Linked DNA regions of Homo sapiens. The protein of the gene in region 1 interacts with the protein of each later gene in a pairwise test. Each region holds a gene or a part of one and is shown on either strand. Other genes may lie near its edges.

The links. Proteins that work in one complex are often made in the same cells at the same time.
Region 2: the proteins of SPATA3 (region 1) and VWC2L interact in a two-hybrid assay, tested with the Homo sapiens proteins (one large-scale study listed by BioGRID).

What each region holds. Positions count from the first base shown.
Region 1 is NC_000002.12:230,998,045-231,003,658, forward strand, and holds part of SPATA3 (spermatogenesis-associated protein 3), read left to right. Parts: intron 1-2,321; coding exon 2,322-2,493; intron 2,494-4,586; coding exon of another isoform or gene 4,587-4,639; coding exon 4,640-4,745; coding exon of another isoform or gene 4,746-4,755; 3' UTR 4,756-4,783; intron 4,784-5,614.
Region 2 is NC_000002.12:214,417,554-214,421,053, reverse strand, and holds part of VWC2L (von Willebrand factor C domain-containing protein 2-like isoform 1 precursor), read right to left. Parts: intron 1-3,500.

The DNA.
Region 1 (5,614 bases):
TGACCTTTCCATTCCAAGAGGCCTAGGAGTCTCCACAAGAGGAAGAACATCTCTGTCCGAGCATCTCCTGGATCTGCCATGAGCCAGTGCCCACGACTCCATAGCCTTGAACAGGCCACACTCCCTGGGCCACAGTTTACCCCCCGGGATTGTGTGGGCATAAAATAAATAAGTGATGGAGATGAGAGTGCTAAATATAAGGCATGCCATGCCAATGATCCTTCCATGGCCAGGAATCAAACCTTTCTTGACATATGATATTGATTTTGAGCACCATACTATATGTTGTAAAGATTGTGATCATCAGCCAGTGAGAGAAACATTTCTGGGTTATGATCTTCAGAACTGGCATCTTCAGTACTGGTAGAAAGCAAGACTTTCCATTCCCAAGTCTTTTAATGAACACATGTGACTCATACTCAGAGAAGAATTTGGCCCATTGAACAGGCAAAGCAAGAAAGCAAGAAATGGTGGTGGCTCGCCAGTGGTTACAGCAGACACCCTATACTTCTTCCAAAGGAATTCTCTGCGTAGAAAGGAATGTTGGAGATGAAGGATGAGGGCCTGCAAGTAAAGCGTGCCATTTTCTAAAATCCAAGCCTTTTTGTGTGCAGAAATATTGTAGCTCAAGAAAATGCCAGTCTTCCACTAGGATGGGTATAATCAGAAGGATGGACAATAACAAGTGTTGGTGAGGATGTAGAGAAGCTGGAATCCTCATACACTGTAGGCGGGAATGTAAAATGGTGCAGCTGCTGTGGAAACAGTCTGGTGGTTCCTCAGAGGAACATGAAGTTACCTTATGACCCAGCAATTCCACTTCTCAGTATACATCCAAGAGAATTCGAAGCATCTTATTAAGCATATTAGAAGCACACCAAAACTTGTACACAAATGCTCAAAGCAGCAGCATTTGTAATAGCCAAAAAGTGGGAACAACCCAAATGTCCATCAGCTGATGAATGGATAAACAAAATGTGGTATGAAATACCACAGTACAATGAGTATGGTGAAATACTATTTGGCAATAAAAAGAGATAGTGTCCTGATACATGGTACAGCCTGGATGAACCTTATAGACACTTGGCTAAGTGAAAGAATCCAGTCTCCCAGAAACCCACACATCGAATGATTCTATTTACATGAAATGTTCAGAATAGGCAAATGTATTGCCAGGGACTGGGGGAAATGGGAGAGTGGGGAGTAACTGCTCATGGAGATGGGGTTTCTTTTTGGGGAAATGAAGACGTTCTGAAATTAGTGGTGATGGCCACAAAACTTTGTGAATATACTAAAAACCACTGAGCACTCTAAAAGGGTGAATTTTATTGCCTGGGAATGATATCTCAATTTAAAAACTTTTTTGTAATTAAAAAAAAAGACAAGTCTTGCCTTTAGAATCCCCTCTCCTCATTCCGGGAAAGTACGTGTCGTGGGCAAGTCTAAGCAGAAAGTGTATTGAATCTGCCAGGTTGACCACCTGTTTCATGCAGCTTAGGGTCAGAAGAATCTGTAGCTCTGTCAAGAAGACGCAGGGCTACAGATAGGAAACAGGAGGGAATAATCCAGCCAGAAATTATCTTGCCCAACCACAGAGGGCATCATCTACATTCTGCTGGGATCCATACCAGAGGAGGACAGAAACAGAAAATAGGATCGGGACTGGAAACTAGAGCTGTGGTTGTCTTCTGGATGGATCAGAATGCTCTAGATCAATGGAACGTGGCAGCTCCAATTCCAGGAATGTCAGTGCAGCCTCTCCTGAGGTGAGCAGTCACCTGAAATTCCATTTTCACTGAATTAAACGTGAGAAAGCCTGAGTTGAGAAAGCCAACTTCTGTAATCTACTCCCCAAAAGGGCATATCCCTTAAATTAGCTGAGCCTCAGTTTCCTTATTTGTAAAACAAGACCAGCAGTATCCCCTTTACAGGATTACTGTGAAATTAAATGAGATGAGCATGCTAAGTGCAAAGCATCCTGAAGGTGTAAGCCATGGCACCATCAGCACCACCTCCATCATCATCATCGTTGTTGTCGTCGCTGTTGCTACTCCCAGGTAGCACCAGTATAAAACAGCCATTTTCCCATGCGGTCAGTCTTCTCTTCTGTTTGGTTAGAGAACATTTTGTGGGAGAACTGCCTTCCTTAGGTAGTTCAGTCCCAAATCCTCAATGATGCCTTGGAAAAAATCCAGCGTTCGCCCTGGTAATCCTGCAGCTGCTGCCGTTGTGGGGGGCCTTCTCAGACTGTGTTCCAGACTCCCCCGCCCCAGCCTCCCAGGGCAGGTGCCTCCCTCACCTCTCTCCTTCTGTCCCCACAGGGCCTCTGATTCGCGCCGGCCCGCATTCCTGCTCCTGTGCCACTTGCCCCTGCAGCTCCGCTTGCTGGCGTCGTCTGGGGCTATGCCATAGCCGCATCTTCGATGTCCTTCTGCCTCGGGACTGGCAGATGGCGCCAGGGAGAGGACTCCCCAACCTGCTCACCTTCTACAGGTTCCAAGCGCGAGGGGCTGGAGCCTCGGGGCACACAGTCCCCAGGGCCAGGCTCTGCCCCCAGACCTTATTAGCAATCATGTATCACTTCCTCTTGGGAATCCCAGGCCGAAGGAAAGCCTTTCTTTCCCTCTTTGCTTTGCCCACTTCCTGGACGTTGGCAGGCAGGGCCCTTTCTGACCGGCCCCACCCCCGGGGTACCCACCCCGCCTGTACAGAGAGGTGCCAGTTTTCTTCCTCACTGGGATTCCTCCTCAGGGGCTTCCTTTTTCTTTTCTCCAGAGATGCCCTCCCCTCCTCAGAACACTCTCCCCCTCAGCCCTTCACAGAGTCGCTCAGGAGCTTTGTGTTTAAACACTGTTTGGCCATGCACCTCCGTGGGCCCTCAGTGGCCTGTGTCATAGGCAGGGGCCTTAGGTTCCTGATCTGCCTACGAATGTCGCCCAGAATTTAATGATAAAAAACTACTTGTAACTCATATGCCTCCTCCACACAATAGCAAGACGTCAGCCCCCTTCAGACTGTGCTGGGCTCTTTCTGGGGGTCTCCACAGGGAACATCTGCCCCCAGGCTGGTCTGTTGGTGGCGGCCCCCATGACATCACCCATAGTATCTGTCCTTCCTTCCTCTTCCCAAAAAGCCACCAGGAGCAGTGTCATGGCTGCCACCGCCCTCATAGGAAGACCCCATCCATGCAGGGAACAGACTGGAGATGTTCCCACGTTTGGGCGCTGCTAGGTTACATGCATGGGCTGGGAGAGGGGTCGCCATCTGCCCCACCTGAGGGCCTCACAGATCTCAATGGAAGAGGCCCTTCCACTTGGCGACCTCACACCCCCACCCCAGGAACTGAGGCCCCCCAACCCCCATCCTTGTCCTGTTCCTCTTCCCAGCCTCTTCCCTACCCAATCCCCTCTCCTTTCTGGAGCTGAAAAACTCCATCTCTCCTACACATGGAGATAAGTAAATAGATACCGGGGCGTGTGGGGAGAACACGCTTGGAGCCAAAAATACTCCACCACCCAGTAAGCTCCGTCAAGGAAAGGTCTGCCTGCCACCGTTAGCCACACCCTGCCCACACGCTTAGTACTTCCATCCATCCATGGCCAAATCGTGCCATGGGTTCATATCGTTTTAAAACCAGCAAGTGTTATTGAGGGAAACTTACTATGCAGAGGACATGGGGCACTGTGAGGGAAACCAGAACAGGGAACTTTACCCCTAAAATTGTTGCAGTCGACATGGAGAGCTAAGACCCATGCATTTAGAAACCAAGATGCAAGATGCAAAGAGCCTTGTGTCCTCTAGGAGAGGCTCCAACAGGAACCTCTGAAAGGTTCCAACAGGAACAGGCTCCAACAGGAACCTCTGAAAGGTTCCTGTCAACAGCATGTGAGCCGAGTCCAGAAGGATCTTGAAGTCCTCTCTGGCTTAAGATGAAAAGCGGGAGCAATCTGGGTGCAGGAAAAGGCAAGCGTGAGGCTCAGAATCAGGAAAGTGAGCAGGGAGAGACAGGGTCCATATCTGGCCAGGGCAAGACATGTAGTTTTAATTCTGCTCCAATTTTAGCACTGGCATGCTTTTCTCAATGGAGTGTAATGTTGGCTCTTGGCTTTCAATCCACATTCACATTAAACAAGAATCCCTATTTTTGTAGGATTTTTATCAAAACGGGTATTGCATTTTTTGAATGCCCTCCTCACAATTATTGCCTTAGTCATGTTTTCCTTGCCTTTGTGTGGGTGTAATATATTATTTCCCAAGTTCCTTTCTCTCAATGGAGTGAAGTGATAGAACTTACCTCATAGGGTTGTTGTGAGGCTGGAAGAAGACACTGGGTGTGAGGTATTTAGCACAAGGCCTGGCTCACAGCAGACTTGACCACCTTCCTAACCTGGTCCCCTTCTGAGTGTTCAGGGCAGCTAGCATCCCAGGCCAGCTCACCCTCCGATCCTCAGGGGTCTTTCAGTAGGGACTTGTTGGAAGGATGGGAAGAATTAAATGCTCTCCTAAGAGGAGTTTGGAGAGGGGGAAGATGGGTATTCCTGCAATCCTGAGGGGGCCACATAATTTCCACTTTCTCCTGTTCGTAGAGAGGCACTGAAGCCCAGCTTCCCACCACCCCCACTTCTGCTTTGCTCTACAGAAAATCTTCAAGAAAACCCTCCAGTCATCGTAACGCGTGTCCTCCAAGCCCTCGGAACTGTGGCTGTGGCTCTGGGGGCTCTAGGAGCTGCCTACTACATCACTGAATCCTTGTGAACAAGCCCCTAGGCCCACAGTCTGGCAGGTATGTTGAGCGCTCTGTCCCTTCGAATGGAGGTGGTCTCTTCAGGTGGACCAAGCCCCGGCCTCTCAAGGGAAGCTTGCCAGTGGAGTGACTCCCTCCTGGCCTCAGGGTCAGCCGGCATGGCCCTCTAGGGAAGACCTGATGCTCTCAGATGACGCTAGACTCATTATTACAATCATCTAAACAGAGCCCCCACCTCCTCTGCCCCGGGATGGTGTCCCTGGTCATGGACCCTGGACAAGAGGAAATGGGAGGGATGGGGGCAAAGGTTTCTACCCATCTCGGACCTTTCTTGGAACTTTCTCCCTGCCTGGAAAGCTTGTCTCCTACCCAGTCCTACCAGTCCATCACCCATAAAGCCCCCTTCTTCCATGAAACCTTTCTCCATCTTCCCAACTTCAATGACGTCTTCCATCTTCTCAACCCCTGTCCTCTCCACCTGTGCCTCCTGTGTTGTGGATGATCCTGTCGTTTGCCTGTGGCCTGTCTCCCATCTGTCCTGCAAGACCCCTGAGGGCAAGGGGCATGGCTCATGCAGCCATCTTCCCTCATCCCTGGAAGCAGAGCCTGAGACTGGGGTTGAATGGACAGGTTTATTGAGGAGGTGCTCTCAGGGAGTGAGGGAGTGAGGGAGGCAAGAAGAGGCAAGGGAAGGAGCTGAGAGGCAGGAGGCCAGACCTCAGCTTGACCCTGTGGGAGCCCTGGAACAAGAATGATGACACAGAGTTAGTCTCAGCAGAGGGGAGAGACTTGCCCTCTGGTGCTCCTCCTTGTCAGTGCTTTGGCTCTGAGTGTTGGGTAGGGACTGCATGTCTTTGTGGAAAGAGCAGC
Region 2 (3,500 bases), about 17 Mb from region 1:
GTAAAGGTTCCCCAGTTACTTACGAAGATGGGAATCCCCCATTGAGAATATCCACTTTGAACCCACTCATTCTGCATGCTGAGGCTGAGCCTCAGATAAGCAATTGTAAGGTCTCAATCACTGTTATTTTGTAGCAACTTGAAAGGGGAAGGCATTCCTTTTAACTCACTCAAAGCCATTTTAATGTTAAAAGCCACAACATGCTCTGCAAAACAGAAACTGCATTTTGCAGAGCCAATAATTATGGAATTAATCTTCTCAACCTCTCTACAAAGATCCCCAATTATCTTTGCCGCATAAAATCATGATGCTTTCTAGTTCTTTCTTGGGATAGTATCTTAAAAATGCCCCTGGTGACTCCACTACCCATTTGTTGAGAAATGAAAACCCTCTTTTGTATAAAACTCTTTAAAAACTGCACCTCTATTCTCATAATCCACTGATTTCTCTGTTATTAAAATAAATACAGGCTTCATACTTCATATATATGCTTTTTGTACTCCTTTGCCTTGTGTAAACATCTGACTTAGTTCCTGTGCTTTTCATAGACACTCGTGCAATGGCAGGTGGGTAAGTAGGCAAGGGGCAGTGAATTGTGCTGTGCAAAGTGTTACCTACCTGTTAGTCCCCTCAACTGAGATATCTCTACAGCCTCTGGTTTTCCCTGTTCTTTCATAAGTCTGGTCCTCAGCTCCTAGAACATGTTGCCTTCCATTTTCTTCTCCATATTAAAAAAACAACTAGACGTCAAATGACTCTCCCAAACCTGAATTCCAAAATTCTTCCCACTCAAACGTTTTTACAGATTTAATTTTACAATATTGGACATTAACAATGTGGCACCTATTAATGAGAAGGTTGAAATTTTTGTCTCTGTGTGAATATACCCATTAAAGGGCAAATCAATTCTAAATCCAAATTGGCATCAACAATTTTTATGAGTGTGATGACTTGGCAAAATAATCCCACGGCTTAATTTTCTTATTTCTTTTTTTGGAACAGAGTCTCCTTCTGTTGCCCAGGCTGGAGTGCAGTGGCGCAATCTCTGCTCACTGCAGCCTCCACCTCCCAGGTTCCAGCGATTCTCCTGCCTCAGCCTCCCGAGTAGCTGGGACTAGAGGTGCCCGCCACCACACCCAGCTAATTTTTGTATTTTTAGTAGAGGCAGGGTTTCACCATGTTGGCCAGGCGGGTCCCCTTTTATTCTCTTGAGATTTAAATATTAAGTATAAAATTCAGGGCAAAAACTTGGCATCCTGAAAACAGGCTCATTTTTATAAAAGCAACAACAAACCCATAAGACATTTGACTTGAAAAAATATTCACACCGCACCTTTCGAATATAGAATTCAGAGACCTGGTCCACTGTCTTTGGCCCATAGTGGGAAAAACACAAAGGTCAGTGTCAGCAGGGCACTGATCTTGGGCAAATCCAAATCCTGAATTAGGGACACTGGGAATTGGCTGCAGAAAATCACTTTAAAATAAAACAAGCTATGCAAAAGCTGAAAGGTTTCTTTCAGCTACATGTAGTATAACCTTCAGTGTATGACCTACAACTAAATCAGTACAAGTTCTAAAGTATAAGGAAATAGTCAAAAAAGCTAATTCTAGCAGAATCAGAGTTATAAAAATACTGAGCAAAATAAGAAATTATTTCTTCCTTTGAGAAACTCAGCATTAAGATAGTTAAGCCTACATTTCCAATAAACTTTTTCTGGTAGAAACTGCTATTATAATGTATTATTTATATGCTTTATTTCTCAAAAAGTAGGTTCCAGTGTCATATTGCCGGGGTGCACATAAAAGAAAGATGAGAGAACCTACTATACAGTGACCTTTATCTTAATACAATATTACCAGAACCCTGGAGAATTTAGAGTTTTCAAAAAGAATAGAGAGAAATTCATTTTCAAAGCTTGCATCAGTAAATGAAATAAAAACCCCACAAAAATCCCACAACCTTTATAAATGACATCAGTTTTCCTATCAGGTGACACATGTGGATCAATTTACATTTGAATTTGGTGATCAGAAAATATTGAAGTGTGACCTATGATTTGCAACTGCATAGGGTGAGACAGTACAGCTAAAACACTGGGTAGTCATTGCGATGCTGGGATGGAGACAGAATCCAAGACAACCCTTGGTGAGGAAGGGGTTGAGAGAGGAAGAAAGTAAAGGCAGGACGAAAATAGGCAGTCTTATCATAAGAGAACAATGTGTGCCATTTTAACTGCCCAAAGAGCATTTTTTGTCTCAACTTTCAGTGCTTCTTTAATTAAAATGAAGAGATCAACACATAAACAGAAACTAAATCATTCTAAAGAAATTCTAACTTCTTTATCCTATAGGTTTGATTACAATTTGACCTGGTATGCTATTCATCAAAAAAGGTATTAAATGACTGTTACATAGCTCACACGGTGTTGGGAATAGAGGGGAAAAGAAAAAAGAAAACAGTGTCGCTAGCCTCGAAGGGTTCAATGACTAATGGAAGAGACGAGTGGTTTCATATGATATTATTTCATATTATATTTTACATGATTTAATATTATTGCAGTGTGATGTATTACATTATTGCTGTGGGGTAGATCACTAGAAGTGGTGAGGAGCTTAGATTCTGCAGTCAAGCTGCCTGGCTTGGAGTCCTACTTTTTCCTCTTTCCAGCTGTATGGTCTTGGACAAGTTACTTACACTCTGCTGCTTCAGTTTTCTTATCCGTAAAACAGTGCTAATAAAAGTATAATTCTCACAGTGTTATTGTAAAATAAAATGTGTTATAATATACATAAAGCTCTTCACAGTATCAGACAACAGTTACTGTTCTTGTAGTGATGGTGTGTATAGCAGGCCGTGGGAACATACGGAAGGAGTGATACAGTGTGGGAGATATGAGGTAGGACAGACAGAGAGGGGTTTCCAGTTGAGGTGAGATTTAAATGGAGCCTTGAAGTGGTCCAGTAGGATTTAAACAGGGAGCAATGTTGAAAAAGTGTTCCATACTGTGGAACAGCAGTGCAAACACACAGGGAAAAAAAGCCACCAAGAGTTTGAGGGATTTGGAGAGGTTGATGAGTAGAATCTAGGCTACAGCAGGGAAATTAGATTTTACCCTGAAAACTGTCCTGAATGTCTTTGTGCTTGTGCACCTCATTCTCTTTTTTTCTGCAACAGACTTCCTTCCTCCACTATTAATTTCTCTTTACTTCTATTCAATTCTGTGCTTGGATATAGGACATTCATTTTTATTTATGTTTAACTAGGTCATCTATGTACAGAACAATCCGCATTTTATTTCCTATTATTCTTCAGATGAATCTAAATATTTTGGCCCAGTATTCAAGGCCCTTCCATCCACTCTCCACCGACACATATCTGAATTTGCCTCTTACTAGGATAGCATTTTAGTCATATCTAGCTTCCAATTATACCCATCTCCCTCCTCTTTGCAGACTGTATTCATCCCAATCTCTGATTTTGCTCTGGCAGTTTCGTC